Linked DNA regions of Homo sapiens: region 1 is linked to region 2. The links come from fine-mapping of genetic effects on gene expression. Tissue or cell type: whole blood. Region 2 holds a variant in brackets; the other region holds the start of a gene. All regions are shown on one strand. Distances are between the middles of the regions. Region 1 holds the start of WASF1 (WASP family member 1). Region 2 overlaps WASF1 (WASP family member 1).

Region 1 (8,346 bases), 31 kb after region 2:
TTTCTTTAGTATTAACATAATCCTATAATTCAGGTATTTTATTATTTAAATAGGCTTTAGTGGGCTGTCTGTGACTCTAACCACTAAGTATACTGTTTCTGAGAAAATAAGACTCAAGTTCCAAACCATTTTACAAGTTGTAAAATGTAATCAATTGTGTAGTAAGTTAGAACTACCAATTCACAAAGACTCAAAATTATAAGCTGAATGTGATAAACTTAAAACACAAGATTCTTAATTTTATAAAAAGTTCCACTTCAGGGGTCATTTATTTTTAACAACTAGGTACTCAAGCATTCAGCATAGGATTTAATTTACATATATCTTTTTTATTACTATTTCACTAGAAAACGTAAGTCACAAAGAATCAAACACACTTCTATCTAGTGTAGGAAAAACAAAAAATATGTTAACATACATCTTCATAAAGTGAGCTATAAGAAGAAAATTGTTAATATTTCATAAATCAAAGACTACTAACATATACATTATTAAGTATCTAGTGCCAGTTCAAAAGTGTACAGGTAATGGAATTATATCTGAGCAGGTAAATGGAGTTCAAAGAACCTTGAAATTCATTTTTCTCTTTTCTCCTGAGATAAAGTTATACATTTCATTAATTATAATGTTTGATAAATCTTTAAAAATGTTTCACTAAATATATTAATTCAATGGATATTCTTTACCCATTCATTTTATTTGTTCAACAAAGAAAATTGAGCCCCTGCTATTTGTTAAACACTATACTAACAACTTTGGATTTATGACAATAAGCTGCAGGTCAGTTTCTCTCCTCAAAGAACTAAGAAAAACCACGACTTTACTGCATTTACCCAAGTGACGGTGTCAGCTAAATTTTAATTCATTTAAGAAAACATTATAAAACAAATTCTCAAAAACGAAACCATACAATAGTAACTTTAAACACACTTTAATAGTCTTATCTATATGAAGTTTTCTCACAAAGTAACCAAAAGCACTGTTTTGGTAAAAGTGCTAATAACATAATCTTTTGATAGTAGTCCAATAAGGAAATCACAAGGTACTATGTACTGTGATAATGAAAATCCAACACTTGGAAAAGATATCTTAAGTTATTCCTAAAATAAAGCAAAATGTATAATTAAATATAGTCTTATACAATATTAAAACTGTCTCTGAATATATGAATATTTACAAACATGAGTAATAAAGTAACTCTATAGCATACCTTATAAATGATCACAACTATGTATTTTGGATTGTAACACCTGCAAATTTGTAACAAAAAGGGCCTTAATATTTTTCGAATATATTATTCTTCACTAACTTAATTCAATATTCTACTTATTATCAAGTCATAATTTTTGTTTACTATTAACTATTTTATCTATATGTTTAACTATATGTAGGTATTAACTGTAATAACCTTTATGTCTGCAATTATTTAAAACCCTTGATAGATGAGAAACATTTTTCAGTTCAGAGGCATACCTCTCCAAAGCAAAAATCAATGTTAATCAGCCATTCTAATATGCCATGGAAAATCCTGACATTTTTTCATTGTATTTTTCACAGAAATTTTTTAATCATTCATCAGCTAAAAGATTTAAATTTTCTTTAAAAGGACTACAAAAACACACCTTTCCTGAATTTATGCACACTACCTACTAAATATTATCTCCATTTACATATAAGGAAACCAAGGCACAAAGGTGTCCATTTTGTAAATTGCAAGGTCATTTCCTAACCAAGCAACTAATCCTACACCATCAACTTATATTATATGTACGCCACTTCCAAGTGCCATAAAACAATTACTATACCTTAAAACTGCCTCTGCAATGCTTATGTGATTCTCTTTTATCAAAAGGGTAAATGCAACAAGCTTAAACAAGGAAAGATGGAAAAGGAAAATTATAAAAATACAACACTTACTTTTTATAGTGAATCATTTATTTTTAAATAATGAGATGTAAACAGTTTTTAACATAAAAATCAAGTAACCAACAGTGGTTTCTTATATTTGCAAAAAAAAAAAAATTTCATCCTTCAGGTAGATCACGCAAAACTGAAGCCTACTCATACTTGTAGATTCAAGTTAGAAAAAAAAAAACTGGATTCTAAAACAAGTAATTAAATACATGATATTGCAAAGAAAAAAGTGAATAAAAAATAAAATCAGATAAATTAGGGAATGACTGATATGATGGTTAAAATCCTCATCTTAAATATTAAATCCTTCCATTCAATGGAAGGCAACGATTAGTAATGACATATTCTGCTACCGAAAAACAAATACAAAACTTTTCTTATTCAAAACTTCCGAAATTTTATATCAAATACTTCATTCAAATATTCAATATAAACAAAAATGTTTCCTAACAGAAACTTAGAGCATAAAGGATAAACTGTTCCTGAGAGTTCAAATTGAGACTGCATTTCTAATTATGATATAATGCTATGAACAATCAGAAAAATGAATGTTACCTACCATGCAAATTTAAATTTAAGAACATTAGACGGATTGAATAACCAATAAGTCAATTACATCAATTAGTGAACAGAAAAAAGACCTTAGCTAATCGTGAATCTAACACCAAAGAAAAAATTTAAGTCGAATCCACCGCACATCTTATTACATAGAAAAGGAAATGATTAGAGTAAGTCGTATTTAAGTACCTAGTCTAGCTGGGGATCAATTAATTAATCGGTTATAGGGCAGGACGTGAATGTTGAGATCGGATGTGCTTTCTTTCATCGTTATTCCAGTTCATCATCCGCAAGTGCAAGAGAAGGTGTCAGAGTACCGAAGCTAGGGGGCATGCTGTAGCAAGGGGAAAAGAAAAATGGGAAAGGTGCAATGGATGCTGCATAGTTGAATAATTATCTGGGTGGCACAATGGGCGAGTCCTGCCGACATGAGCGCTGAGTGAGCGGCTCCGTAACTCTGCCCAAGGCAGCCCCCATGAACAGGCACCAGAAGCGACAGCACCGCTTCGCCTCCCCTTCCAACGAAGAAAAGGATGCCCGCACTCGCTTTACCGTTATGTTTTCAGACACCGACTCGCGGAGCAAACACGCAAACGCACGAGCTCGCTTTACCGAGCCTCGCGCACGTAGGGCGAGCAGGGGATTCTCTGTCGCCCGGGGCTACCGCCTCCCCCGGAAAGAGGCACGGGGCGGACCGCGGGCGCGGGTGGGCAGGGAAGCCCGGGCGGTGGCACCTCAGGTGACACCCACAGTCTCTCCAGCGAGAGCAGCCCCGGGGCGGTCCCTGCAGCCAAGCCCCAGGCGCGCCCGCCGCCGTCTCCCTCGGCACCCAGCCCCGCTGGCGGGTGGGCGGTGGGCGCTCGGAAAACCCGCGGATGGGGGTGGGGGCCGGGGCGGGGAAGGCGCGCCCATCCATCCCCGTCACCTTTGCGGGCCACACACCACTCGGTCTGCTCCGGCCAGTAAGGAAGAGTTCCTCTCCCAACACCCCCTCCCCGAAAAAAGCAATTCCTCAGGGACTCGCGCTCACCGTGAAATCTTGGGGGCTCACGCCTTACCCCTTCTTCATGCTTCGGCAGCGGTCGCCGGTCCCCCTCGGCTCGCGGGACTCCGCCTAGAGCCCCCAGGAGGGTCGGGCTCTGGGGCGGAACCCGCTCAGGGCAGCGGCCCAGGCGCCAGGCCACAGGGAACGCCGCCTGGGGCGCCAACCCGCCGCCGGACCCACCGTGTGCTCGACGCGCGAGTGAACAACACCGCGAGCTGCCGTTCCCCCCGCCCCCTCCCCGCGCGAGACGCTCCACAACCGGGCGCAGGGACCCGCGCCAGAAGCAGGGGGGACCGCGAGACTCTTTCCGCCTATGGTCCCATCCTTGCCCCCCGCCCCAGGAGCTATTCCTGGCCAGTCAGAGGTCTCAAAACTTCAGATTCTCACTTTCCTCTTCAGCCTCCAGTGCCCAGGTGCAGCCGAGGTGGGAAATCCAGCCTCCGCCCACTCCCCCATTAGTGGGGCCGAAGCTCGCTCTTCCCCCCTTTCCTGAGGTTCTGTGGTATTGCCCAATCCTCAGTTTGGGGGAGGGGGACGAAGAGAACACTGCTTGGCTAGGGAATGAGGGAAGATGATAGCCAATTGAATGGAACATCCATTCGGGGGCGGGGTCAAAGGGGGACACGCCCCCGTTCCGCCCCCTCGTTGCAAACTACACTTCCCATTGTGCCCTCTCGCGCTTCCTGCCGCGCTGCACGCTGGGAGTGCAGGACCGCGAGGCCTCAAGGTATTTTGGAACTCATATTCTTTAGTCAACTAGGTCCTAAATGTTATAAACTATTATAATTCTCCCTTTTTCCCTAGATAAACTTTTTTAAGCTCTCAGCTCGACAGTAGTTATTCTAATAATAATTAGCTTATTGTTTCAAAATGTAAGACATTATTTCTTAGCAAAGAAAGTTAATGATGTGTTCCATTGCAATCTGTCAGGACCTGGGAGCCTCTTCTTCTTCCGCCCTGGCAGGGTCTCCGCAGAAGATTTGTTGCCGTCATGTCGGCTGCGATTGCAGCTCTGGCCGCTTCCTATGGTTCGGGTTCAGGGTCCGAATCGGACTCGGACAGTGAGAGCAGTCGGTGTCCGCTGCCAGCCGCCGACTCCCTCATGCACTTGACTAAATCGCCTTCATCAAAGCCGTCTCTAGCAGTGGCAGTGGACTCGGCTCCGGAGGTGGCAGTTAAGGTAAGCACTTTTGCTACTAATGCAGTGTGGGAATTGTTGGCTTCAGCTCCAGAACTGCCAGCCGCTTGTTAGGTACCGGGTTACCTCTTTCTCAGTGCTCAGAGATAAGTTGCTAACGTTTGAATTTCTTCTCCTTCCCACATGCATCCTCGGGAGAGGCAGAATTGGAAGTTCGGAATAGCCCTCCGATGCTCTCTGCCCTTGCCTCCCGCCATCAGAAAGCAAGTGGAAGGAGGGGATGAAATTTGAATTTGTGGATTAGGGACATAGCCTGGAAAGTGCAGGTGTAATCTCGGAACATAAGTGAAATTAGATCAGGACTTCCCAAACTAGAGTATTGTGTGAGCAGTGGCCTCGATTTGTCTTATTTTTGAAGAACTAGGTTCTAATCCTGGCACCACCACTTGTGTGAACTTGGACAAGTTATGCAGCCTCCTTTCTTTCCTCACCTGTACAGTGGAGATCATTTTCAAAACATCTGTCTACATGAAAAGATGAGTGTGAAAATTGAGTGAAATTACACAAATAAAGCATATAGCACAGAGCCAACTAGTGAGAGTGCAGTAAATGTTTTATGATTGTGTGTGTTAATACAGTGAGAAAAAGGCCTTGGATTTGAGAAACAGCTGCATGATCTCAATGGAGGAAGCTGATTAATAAGGCAAGAGTTTCCAGGCAGAGGTGACAGGCAAGCCTGAGAACGCAAAGAGCCTAGTGGGTTTGAAGAACTGAGGAAAAGCTGATGTGTCTGGAGCCTGATGAGAGCATCTACCAATTGGTAGTGTAGGCCCAGTAGAGCCCGAGGTAGGTGATCAGCTCAAGATGTGAAGAGGGGAGGCGGTGTCCAAAAATTCCTTTGTATCATGTCCCCAAGTCTAGTTTAATGACTTAAGAAGTGTTTTACAGGTTTTTAACAAGCTGTATGTGAATTTTACTTTTTAAAAATGGACATCTGTCATGAAAGAATGCTTAGAATCCTCCTAACTTCCTATCAAAACAAAACTTTCCAAACTTAAGCCCCTCCAGTAACCTCCTGAGTCTTCTCCTTTCACAGCTCAGCTTTTTGGAGCTCTCTTTTTGTCTTCGTCTCATTTTCTCCTCAACCCAATGCAGTCTGGCCCTATCCTCTTGGGAAACTACTGTCTGTGAGTGATGTCCCAGGCCTTCCAGTTGTCAAGTTCAGCCATCTGACTTAAATGTCTGCATCAAATGACACTGTTCATTAGTTCCTCTTTCTTGAAACTTTCTCTCCGTTTCGCTTCCATGGGGCTCTACTCAGCATTCTGTTCCAATTATTTTACTCTCCCTTTTCAATACTGGTGTTTCCCAGGACTCTGCTCTTAGTCCTCTTTGCATTCCACATATTCTCCCATACCTTCAACCTCAGGCTGTGCTGCTTCTAGCTCAAGGTGAACACCGTGAAATGGTTAGCACAGGCTCTGGAATTAAGACTGTAATTCAAATCCTGCCTCCAGCACTTACCCACCTGGGGACCTTGGATAAGTTACTTAAATGCTCTGTACCTAATTTTTGCTGATCTGTAAAGTAGGAATAACAGTAGTACCTATCTAACAGAATTATAATAATTGTCATAAAAGATGTAAAGCCCTTTTAACAGTGCCACACACAATGAACACTAATTAAATGCTTGCTATCCTTTTATTTCCAGTTCTATCCTCCTTGCTAGCTTACGATCTTGAGAGGTATATAAAAATCTCCCACAGTAATTGTACATTTGTCTTTTGCAGGTTGGCGCTCAGCCACCTCCAATTCAGTGTGTCGAAAAATTATTTTCTTTCCCTCAAAATCCACTTCTGTTTTTCCTATTTTGATCTGTCATCCCACAATCCACCCACTAGTTGAAGCCGAGAACAAAGAAGGTATCCTTTTCTCTTCCTTCTTCCTCAGCCCCTGAAGCTAGTCATTCAATTGATTCTAACATTGCTGTTTCATTAATTTCTCTCACATCAACTCCTTCCTTGCTATTTTCACTGGTGCAGGCTTCATATCTTCCTTATTTCTCCCAGGAGTTATTCTTTTCTTTCTCTTTCAGCCTTTTTGGGTAGTGGGTTCTGTCCACTTTAACTCAATGATATTCATCAAATCTCTCTCTTCTGCTGCCACTGTTTAGTTCAGATTCTCATCATTTCTCTTCAGACAGTTGTAGCCTTCTAACTGATCTTTCTACTTCTTCCTTTCTTGTCTCCCAGTTTTATACCCCATTCTTTTCTCCACAGTGCACTTAGAATGATCTTTGTAAATTCCACTTACATCGTATCACTTCCCTGCCCAAAGACACCATGTTGTCCAATGGGTGATTTCTAAGTTTTTTTGGTAGCATGTGAGTCCTGCTATTCTCCCATGCTGAACTCTTTACAAAGCCCTGAAAGCCGAATTTTCTTTCTTCCTCTGAAGATTTTGCCCACGCTAGTCTTTCTGCCTGGAAATCCCTTGCCTAGTGCCTCCTTCCCCCACTCCAAACACTGTGGTCCTTCAGTCTCAGTGTATATGTTTCCTCCTATTTTACCTTAGCCCCTTTATCATATCTTAACTATAGCACTTAGCACATTGCTGTAACTTGTTCATCTTTTTCTTTCCTCTGGACTGTGAGACCCTGGGGTCCAGAGACTGTTGTATCCATTCGTTTGTGTCTCCAGTGCCTAGTACACAAGATTAGGGAAGTATATTTGGTAAGAGAATGGAATGAAAAAGAAAGTCTTGTAAAAGTATGCACATTAAGAATCAGAATTTTAGAGCTGGACATGCAGTGGCAGGGATGGGGGTGTTTGTCTAGAGCTCACTTAGTGCAATCACGAATAAATAAGGGAACCCAGGAGGAAAGGCTGCGTAAGGTACCAGAAGTCCATTAGAGGTAGAGCTGGGGCTAGTCCACCCAGTGGTCTGGGTTCTATGAGAGCGTAGAGGGCATTGCTCATTGTTGGTTTATGAACCAACACTTGTTTATATGAAGGGAAAACAAACTTACACATAGTAAATATAATGATTGCAAATGATTGGAAAATTGGAAAATGACCAAGGGAGATGTGAAGCATGCAAATATATTCATCTGTAGTTGACTAATTGTATTATGATTAATAGCAAGCATTTTGGCAGAGAATACATTTTTGCAGCGTTTTTAATCTATGTTTTTTCCGAGCTGTTTCCTGCAGTTGAGTATCTTTTAATATGTTATTGGTGATTTAATTTTTTTTTCTTTGGAAGCAACTATTGGGTTGTCATTTCCTTTTGATTTTTAGAAGACCTTTACATATTCTGGATACTATCCTTTGTCAATTGTGTGTGTTGCAAATTTTTTTTCTTTTGTGACTTGTCTTCTCACTTTTCCCTGTTGTTTACAAACAATTATTTATGTAGTCTGTGCTTGTCAAATTATTCCTTTATGTATCGGGTTCCTGTTGCTTGTTTGAGAAATCCTTAACTCATAGTCATGAAAATATTCTCTTGTATTATCTCTTGAAAGCTTTTCACATTTAAGTCATTAATCCATATGAAATTAACTTTTGTCTATAGTGCGAACATTCTTAATAATATGGCTTGATAGGTGATAGGGCAGTTCCCTTGCCCTTTTTTGTTGGCTCTTCTTGGCCCTGTAATTCTATATACAGTTTAGAATTAAGTTGGAAAGTTC
Region 2 (8,346 bases):
AATTGTGAATGGGAGTTCAGTCATGATTTGGCTCTCTGTTTGTCTGTTATTGGTGTATAAGAATGCTTGTGATTTTTGCACATTGATTTTGTATCCTGAGAATTTGCTGAAGTTGCTTATCAGCTTAAGGAGATTTTGGGCTGAGACAATGGGGTTTTCTAGATATACAATCATGTCATCTGCAAACAGGGACAATTTGACTTCCTCTTTTCCTAATTGAATGCCCTTTATTCCCTTCTCCTGCCTGATTGCCCTGGCCAGAACTTCCAACGCTATGTTGAATAGGAGTAGTGAGAGAGGGCATCCCTGTCTTGTGCCAGTTTTCAAAGGGAATGCTTCCAGTTTTTGTCCATTCAGTATGATATTGGCTGTGGGTTTGTCATAGGTAGCTCTTATGATTCTGAGATACATCCCATCAATACCTAATTTATTGAGAGTTTTTAGCATGAAGGGTTGCTGAATTTTGTCAAAGGCCTTTTCTGCATCTATTGAGATAATCATGTGGTTTTTGTCTTTGGTTCTGTTTATATGCTGGATTAAGAAAATGTGGCACATATATACCATGGAATATTATGCAGTCATAAAAAATGATGAGTTCATGTCCTTTGCAGGGACATGGATGAAGCTGGAAACCATCATTTCTCAGCAAACTATAACAAGGACAAAAAAACCAAACACTGCATGTTCTCACTCATAGGTGGGAATTGAACAATGAGAACACATGGACACAGGAAGGGGAACATCACACACCGGGGACTGTTGTGGGGTGGGGGGAGGGGGGAGGGATGGCATTAGGAGATATACCTAATGCTAAATGACGAGTTAATGGGTACAGCACACCAACATGGCACACGTATACATATGTAACAAACCTGCACGTTGTGCACATGTACCCTAAAACTTAAAGTATAATAACAAAAAATATAATTTTCATTTTTCACAATACAGTATTAAATACTTATTCAAACTAAAGGATTACATTATGTGACCTAAAGGAACAGGTTAAAATAAGTATTCTAATAAAAACAATTTCAATATTTCAAATATGTTAAGAATTTTGGGTAGGGCAAATACTTATTAAGAAATGTCCTCCCTTCTTAAGAATAGAAGCCACTTAATTTTGCACAATTGGCAAGTTAAATAATTTGAGTATAAGAATGTTTAAATAGAGCTTTGCTCTTCATAGAAATAATTTTCTTAATAAACTCCCATGCCAATGACAAAATACTTTATAATTGTGACAGATATTATTAAATATAAAAATTTAAAATAAGAATGCATGAAGAACTGTACATTAAAAATATATCTAATTTTTTATTTAAAAATATATATATCTAACTTTAAAACCATATTTCAATTATACAAAACCACAGGTCTTTAAACGGTGATTTAATATAAAATATATTTGCAAGGTTATTGTTTAGAAGTGTATCAGAAACAGAATTTTATAATTTACCTTTCCCTAAATCTATAATGCACATTATCTCAAACTGTTTCATTATTGTAAACTAAAAAACTGAAGTTCAAAATAACTTCACTTACCAGTGAAATAGAAGCTTGTGTTTCTTGTGTAAAACCACCTCAGGAATATATAGAAATCATAAATTTCCTCTTTGTTGTGAGAAGCAAACTTTAAAACTACTCACTACTCATGAATCTCTAAAGGAGATTCATAGGAAAATGACAAAACCAATTTAGGTACTCACAGGACTAAAGAACTAGTCATCATGCTGAACATCTCCAGTTATTTGCTCTGAGGTACTCTGGCTCTTGGTTTAAAAAAAACTGCCCTAAGAACAGTGCTATCTTTACCAAAAATAAATATATAAATAATTATGTCACCTGAGGCCAGGCGCGGTGGCTCACACCTGTAATCCCAGCACTTTGGGAGGCCGAGGAGGGTGGATCACGAGGTCAGGAGATCGAGACCATCCTGGCTAACACGGTGAAACCCCATCTCTACTAAAAATACAAAAATTAGCCGGGCGTGGTGGCGGGCGCCTGTAGTCCCAGCTACTCGGGAGGCTGAGGCAGGAGAATGGCGTGAACCCGGGAGGCGGAGCTTGCAGTGAGCCGAGATCATGCCACTGCACTCCAGCCTGGGCAACAGTGCGAGACTCCGTCTCAAAAAAAAAAAAAAAAAATTATGTCACCTGAAGTCACAATAGCAAAGCATTAAATTTTGATAGGCTACTAAAGTCGAAAATAACACATTGCTAAGCAAACTAAAGCAAAAAGGAAATGAAGAAATAAGCTACATACTCAGCAATTCATAACACTGACATTTCTGACAGAGTCAAGAAAACTGTATGCTAATGAAATAATCAATAGTATTATACACCTATAGAGTGGAAAGAAGACTGTATATAGTCATCTTAGTAATAAAATCCACTAAATAGTAGTATTTTCTTATGTGATTCCATGTTACTCTCAAAGAAAATATGTACTTCCTTTAAATTAATATAACCACTACTGAAACTTACTTGACAAATCATTATACAAGCATAATACTGCACCAAGGTTATTACTGTATTATTTTTCTTTTGAGACAAGGTCTTATTCTGTCACCCAAACTGGAATGCAGTGGCGTGATCACAACTCACTGCAGCTTCAACCTCCCTGGCTAAAGCAGTCCTCCCACCCTCAGTTTCCCAAGTAGCTGGGACTACAGGGTGTGCCAGCACACCTGGCTAATTTTTAAATTTTTTGAAGAGACGAGATTTTGCCATGTTGCCCGGGCTGGCCTCAAACTCCTGGGCTCAAGTAATCCTCCTGCCTTAGCCTTTCAAAGTGCTAGGATTATAGACATGAGCCACTGCACCCAACCACCAAGTTTATTTTTAGTGGTTTAAAAGATGTTAAAATTGAAGTTTGAGGCATCTAAACCACAAATGCAGAACTAAGCTACTTGAAAAACAAGATTGTCTTCTTCATATTGCAAGTATTTCTAAAAACATATACCTATCAAATACATTGTACTTTATATGAAAAACGGCAGTACTGACACACTGCCATCCATTCATTCATTCATCTAACCAACCATTTACTGAACATCAGTGAAATAAGTACTGTGTGCCAAGTGCTAAAGATAAAGGGGTGAGCAAAACCAAACAATCCCCCGTGTATTTCCTAGAATCTAGTATCTAATTACGCTTATAAGTATAATGGAGTAAAAGTAGGGGACACTATAAAGGGGACCTGTCTCCTTAAGGAAGTAATATTTAAATTAAGAACAAAAGGATTATTAGCTAAGCTAGCTAAGCTGGGGAAACTGAAGCTTGTGCGTGTGTTTTCATTCTTAGAATGAAAGGTGGACAGGGAATAATAATGAGAGCAAGCCATCATGGGTGAAGTGCAATCAGAGACTCTAGGGTTAGTAGGGGGTCAGATTAGGTAGGACCTTGAAGGTCATATTGACGATTTTCTATGTTGTCCTAATGGAAAACCCTTGAAGGGTTTTAAGCAAAGGAGTGCCAAGATCAGGAATGACCATTCATTCTAATTGCTCTATGGAGACTTGGGCAGTGGGGAATGGCAGAATAAATGCAGGTAGACCAGACAGAAGATGAATAAAGTAGTCCAGAGACAGAGATGGTAGTCACTTGGACTATGTGATAGTGATACAGAAGCATGTCAACTCAAGATATATTCTGGAGGTAGAAGGAAACAGGCTAATAATTAATTAGATCACCAGAAGGGGTGAAGCCCAAGTTCTTGGCTTAAGAAACTTTCTATAGTCAGCCAAAAACTGAAAATTATTTCTAAAGCAGATCAATTATATCAATATATGACTCCCTATCCACAAAGTCTATGGGATTAGGAAAAGACTTATGACTAACTCTAGTAATATGTACAACCAAGTAACTGGGCTCATGGAGAGAGTAATTTAATGGTATTTGGGACAGGGGTAGTGGGAGAATGATGAGTTTTAAAGCCAAAATTAATTGAGAAAGCAAGAGAACATTTAGTGGCTTTCCTTTTTTTCCCCCTTTCATTTTTTTCCTTACATTTCATTATTCTGTATGGCATATGCCCGCTTTACCTATTTCAGCCTGAAGGATAAATCTTAGATTTACTTAATTGCTTTGTTCGCCTACATCGTTGCCATTCTCTATGCCCTGTAACTTCAGTCCACCTGACTTCTAGAATAGAGAGCCAGGGTAAACACAATATTCCTGGCATTTCACCTTCCAATGCCCCACAATTCATATGAAATGTCATCTTCTTTCTGTAGGAGACAGCATGGAAGAGGAAGACTCTGTCT[TAA/T]AAAAAAAAAAAAAAAAGGAAAGAAAGAAAGAAAAAAACAAAAAGAAAAGAATCTTAACCTGGAAGAGAAATTAAAACACCAAATAATTCATATCCGATTTTTGTAGATTAGCAAACTTACCTGAAAAAGCTAAGAAACTTCTCTAAGTTCACAAAATCAGTGGCAGAGATGAGACTAGATTTTGTCTTCAGATTTTGCATCTATTGCTTGCTCTACTGTATTTTTGTCAGTATACATATTTTAATTTTTTATTTCAAGTTTCTGGGGTACATGGATAAGTGATTTGGTAGTGATTTCTGGGATTATGGTACACCCATCACCTGAGCAGTGTACACTGTACCCAGTATGTAGTCTTTTATCCCTCAGCCCCCTCCCACCCTCTTAATCTGTTACTGTTTATTATTACTATTATTATTTTGTAGAGATGGGGTCTCCCTAACTTGCCTGCCCAGGCTGGTGTCGAACTCCTGAGCTCAAGCAATCCTCCTGCCTCAGCCTCCTATTAGAGATGTGAGCCACTATACCTGGCCTTGTTACTGTATTTAAGTCTATTTTGTATTCTCGACAAATTGGCCTCCCAAATTTCACAATACCCTAAAAGATTTTCAATGGTATTTTGAAGCTCCAAATAATGTTCCTCAATTCCCAGATGACTACTTCCTTCAATAAATATTTACAGATTACATATTATGGTTAAAATATAGAAAGTGAAAGGAATAGAAAAGAAGTAAAATAGCTTCACCACCCAGCAGCTTACAAAATAATCAGGAAGCAAAAATATGTAACAGAAAATGTAAAACAATAAAAATGAACATATAGCTAAGGTCTAAAGTAGACTAAGGTAAATTATTATGCATGTAGAGAGAATGAAATCAAAACCAGCTAAAGAGGTTAAAGGAAGACAGTAATTTAGACCTGTTCTGTCCAATAAATTAACCAGCTAGCCACAAGTTGCTAAATTAAAACGAAGTAAATAATTTAAAAATCAGTTCCTCAGTCACACTAGCCACATTTCAAGTGCTCAATAGCCATACTGGACAGGGTAGTTACAGAACACTACCTTCACTGCAGAAAGTTGTACTGGACAGCACTGATGTCCATCACAAGTAAAACAGCAAGTTGAGAATAAGAGAGGAAAAATAAGGACACTTGCTTGAAAGGAAAACAGAAGCAGGAATAAAAGATTTTTTAAAAAAGCAATCAAATTGAAGATTTTGAACTTTGGTGGTCAACAAGGAACAAATAAGTTCCTTAAAAGGAGTAAAAGGGCTGGGCACAGTGGCTCACGCCTGTAATCACAGCACTTTGGGAGGCTGAGGCGGGCAGATCACCTTACATCAGGAGTTCGAGACCAGCCTGGCTAACATGGTAAAACCCCGTTTCTACTAAAAATACAAAAAATTAGCCAGGCTTGGTGGCACGAGCCTGTAATCCCAGCTACTTGGGAGGCTGAGGCAGGAGAATCACTTGAACCCAGGAGGCGAAGGTTGCAGTGAACTGAGATCACGCCATTGCATTCCAGCATGGGCATCAAGAGTGAAACTCTGTCTCAAAATAAAAGAGTAAAAGAGGACAAACATTTGATCTTAAAAAGATTTTAATGTGTATTATGGAGTAAATGTGGAATGACTAGAGAGAGTAAACCACTGGGTCATAGGGTATATATACACATACATACATACAGCTTTAGTAACTATTGTCAAATAGTTTTCAAAGTGCTTGAACTAATTTATACCCCCATCAGCAACTTACGAGAGTTCCAGCTGTTTGACATTCTTGGTAACACTTGGTATCACACACTAGCAATTTGAGGATCCAAGCAAAACTAACCACATTTCATTCTAAAGTTTCATCTAGTCTACTAAAATTTTTAATTTCCAAAATCTTTGGCCACAAATAACTATAATAAAATATTAAATGTATTACTCTTGATTGAATGCTTTCTAGGAAATAAACAAGGTGGAGATAAAAGCATCCTACATGTTATAAAAACAATTATTTCCCACATTCTGTAATATAAGAATTCTATAAACTCAAGAATTCCAAGATTGGTCTAAACAATAGGATCAACAAAATGCACACTTACATTCATTCATCTCTTGCACAAGTTTAATAAAGTAATAGTAATTTTTAAATACTACTTTATATTTGTAGACATACATGAAATCACAATATTAATCACAATTTTGAGTGAACTTAAAAAACTTACAAAATCACCTCTATTATGTTTACTTTTTAGCTACTTCCTCAACTTTCTACTGTTTCTTAACATCATAGATGAAAGAAAATTAAAAAATATAGAAAAAGTGGTAAGTATATTATTATCTTAGTTCTATTTCCCCACTGGACATGGAAATGCTATGCCAAATCAAATCAGTGAGAAAAATCAACTTACATCTTATTTGGGTGTCACAACCATCCCATTATATGCACATATTATTATATATTTTTGTCCTTTTTAGAAAAAAAATATAAACTTTATTGAGGTATAAGTGAAGCACAACATACAGCATGTGGCAGGCAGAATTCTAAGATGGCCGCATGATATCCAGTCCCTAGCACTATTCCTATGATTATATTACATGTTAAGAGAGGTTTTAAAGATATAATTATGGTCAATTATCAGCTGACCTTAAAATTGGGAGATTATATGGGTGGGCTTAACCTAATCACATGAGCCCTTTGAAAGTAGAGCTTTCTCCAGCTGACAACGGAGAAAGGAGGCAAAGATTTGAAGCATGAGGGAGATGTGGCAGCTACTGCTGGCTTAAAGATGGAGGGAACCTGAAAGCAGTTCTAGGAGCTAGAAACCTTTTTCTGACACCCAGGGAGAAGACAGGAACCTGGAAACCAGGAACAATAATATTAAATCCAACAAAAACTTACTCTGGTTAACTACTCTCCTTAAGTTGGGATTCTGTTATTATTTCATATATGTCTGTATTATCAAAATTCTTCTAAACTTTGATTTTGTCTTAGTCCAACAGAAACAATTCACAATACAATGAAGAATTATATCCATCAGGAAAAATAGAATCTGCCTCTGTACTTGTTAGATATTAAAAGAGAAGCTTAAGATTGTACAACTACCAGGAACTTGAATGAGCTTGCAAGGTGATTGTTCCCCAGAGCCAACAGAAAAGAAATGTAGCCGTCAGTGCCATGATTTTGGACTTCTGAGTCCCTATGCAGAGAATCCAGCCAAGCCTATTCATACTTCTGACTTATAGGACTATAAGATAATTACTAGAGATGTTTTAGCCTGCTAAATGTGTGGTAATTCGTTAAGCAGTGATAGAAAACTAATGCATTGCACATACTGGTGTAAAATTTGATTAGGTTTATAACAGTTTTAACATGGCTTAATACTGTGAAATCATCACAATCATCCCCCAAATTTTCTCCTTTGTAATCCCTTCCTCCCCTCATGTTTCCAAGGACCACTGACCTGTCACCATAGATTAATTTGCTTGTTGAATTCTATATAAATGGATTCACAGAGTAGTAACTATTGTCTGCCTTCTTTTGTTCAGCCTAATGATTGAGATGATTGAGATTCATCCATGTTGTTGCACTTGTTTATGGAAATTTGGGTAATATTCCGGTTTTGATTATTGTAAATAAAGTAACTTATGAACATTTTATACAAGTCTCTATGTGGATATGGTTTTGTTTTTCTTGGGTAAATACTTAGCAGTGGAACGGTTGGGTTATACGTTTAGCTTTGTAAAAAACTACAAAATTGCTTTCCAAAGCAGTTTAACCATTTTACATTTCCACCAACAGAGTTCTAGGTGAAGATAGGGAGCCAGGAAATAATAATGGCAAAATAGTTTAACCAAATCTACTGTTCTGGTTTCTGTTCCAGTTTGACCTTATGGCAGATAAAAATAACTAGCTGTACAATGTAATGATAAACTGACATTTTGAGTCCAAAAAGAAAGTTTAAGACTGATTTAATAAGAGCCCTAATATTTAAAAGAAGCCATAGATTAAATCAATCTATGTTGATTTCTCACTGTATCCTCACCCAAACTTGGCATTGTCAACCTTTTTAATTTTAGTCAATCTACTGCATG

Evidence for each region.
Region 1: WASF1 starts here. The variant in region 2 is fine-mapped to the expression of WASF1 in whole blood (INTERVAL, PIP above 0.99).

The regions. Positions count from the first base shown.
Region 1 is chr6:110,175,937-110,184,282 of GRCh38, forward strand. WASF1 (WASP family member 1) reads right to left here and starts at 3,734. Exons shown (of 11, transcript NM_003931.3): 1 at 3,503-3,734; 2 at 2,662-2,806. It overlaps CDC40 (cell division cycle 40), which reads left to right and starts at 4,491. Exons shown (of 15, transcript NM_015891.3): 1 at 4,491-4,697. The coding sequence starts at 4,509. RefSeq lists silencers at 3,094-3,413, 3,654-3,763.
Region 2 is chr6:110,145,220-110,153,565 of GRCh38, forward strand. The region is part of intron 3 of WASF1 (WASP family member 1); the gene reads right to left. Among named protein-coding and RNA genes, the nearest start is that of WASF1, 30 kb to the right of the region's middle. The variant TAA/T (reference allele first, on the strand shown) is at 4,265.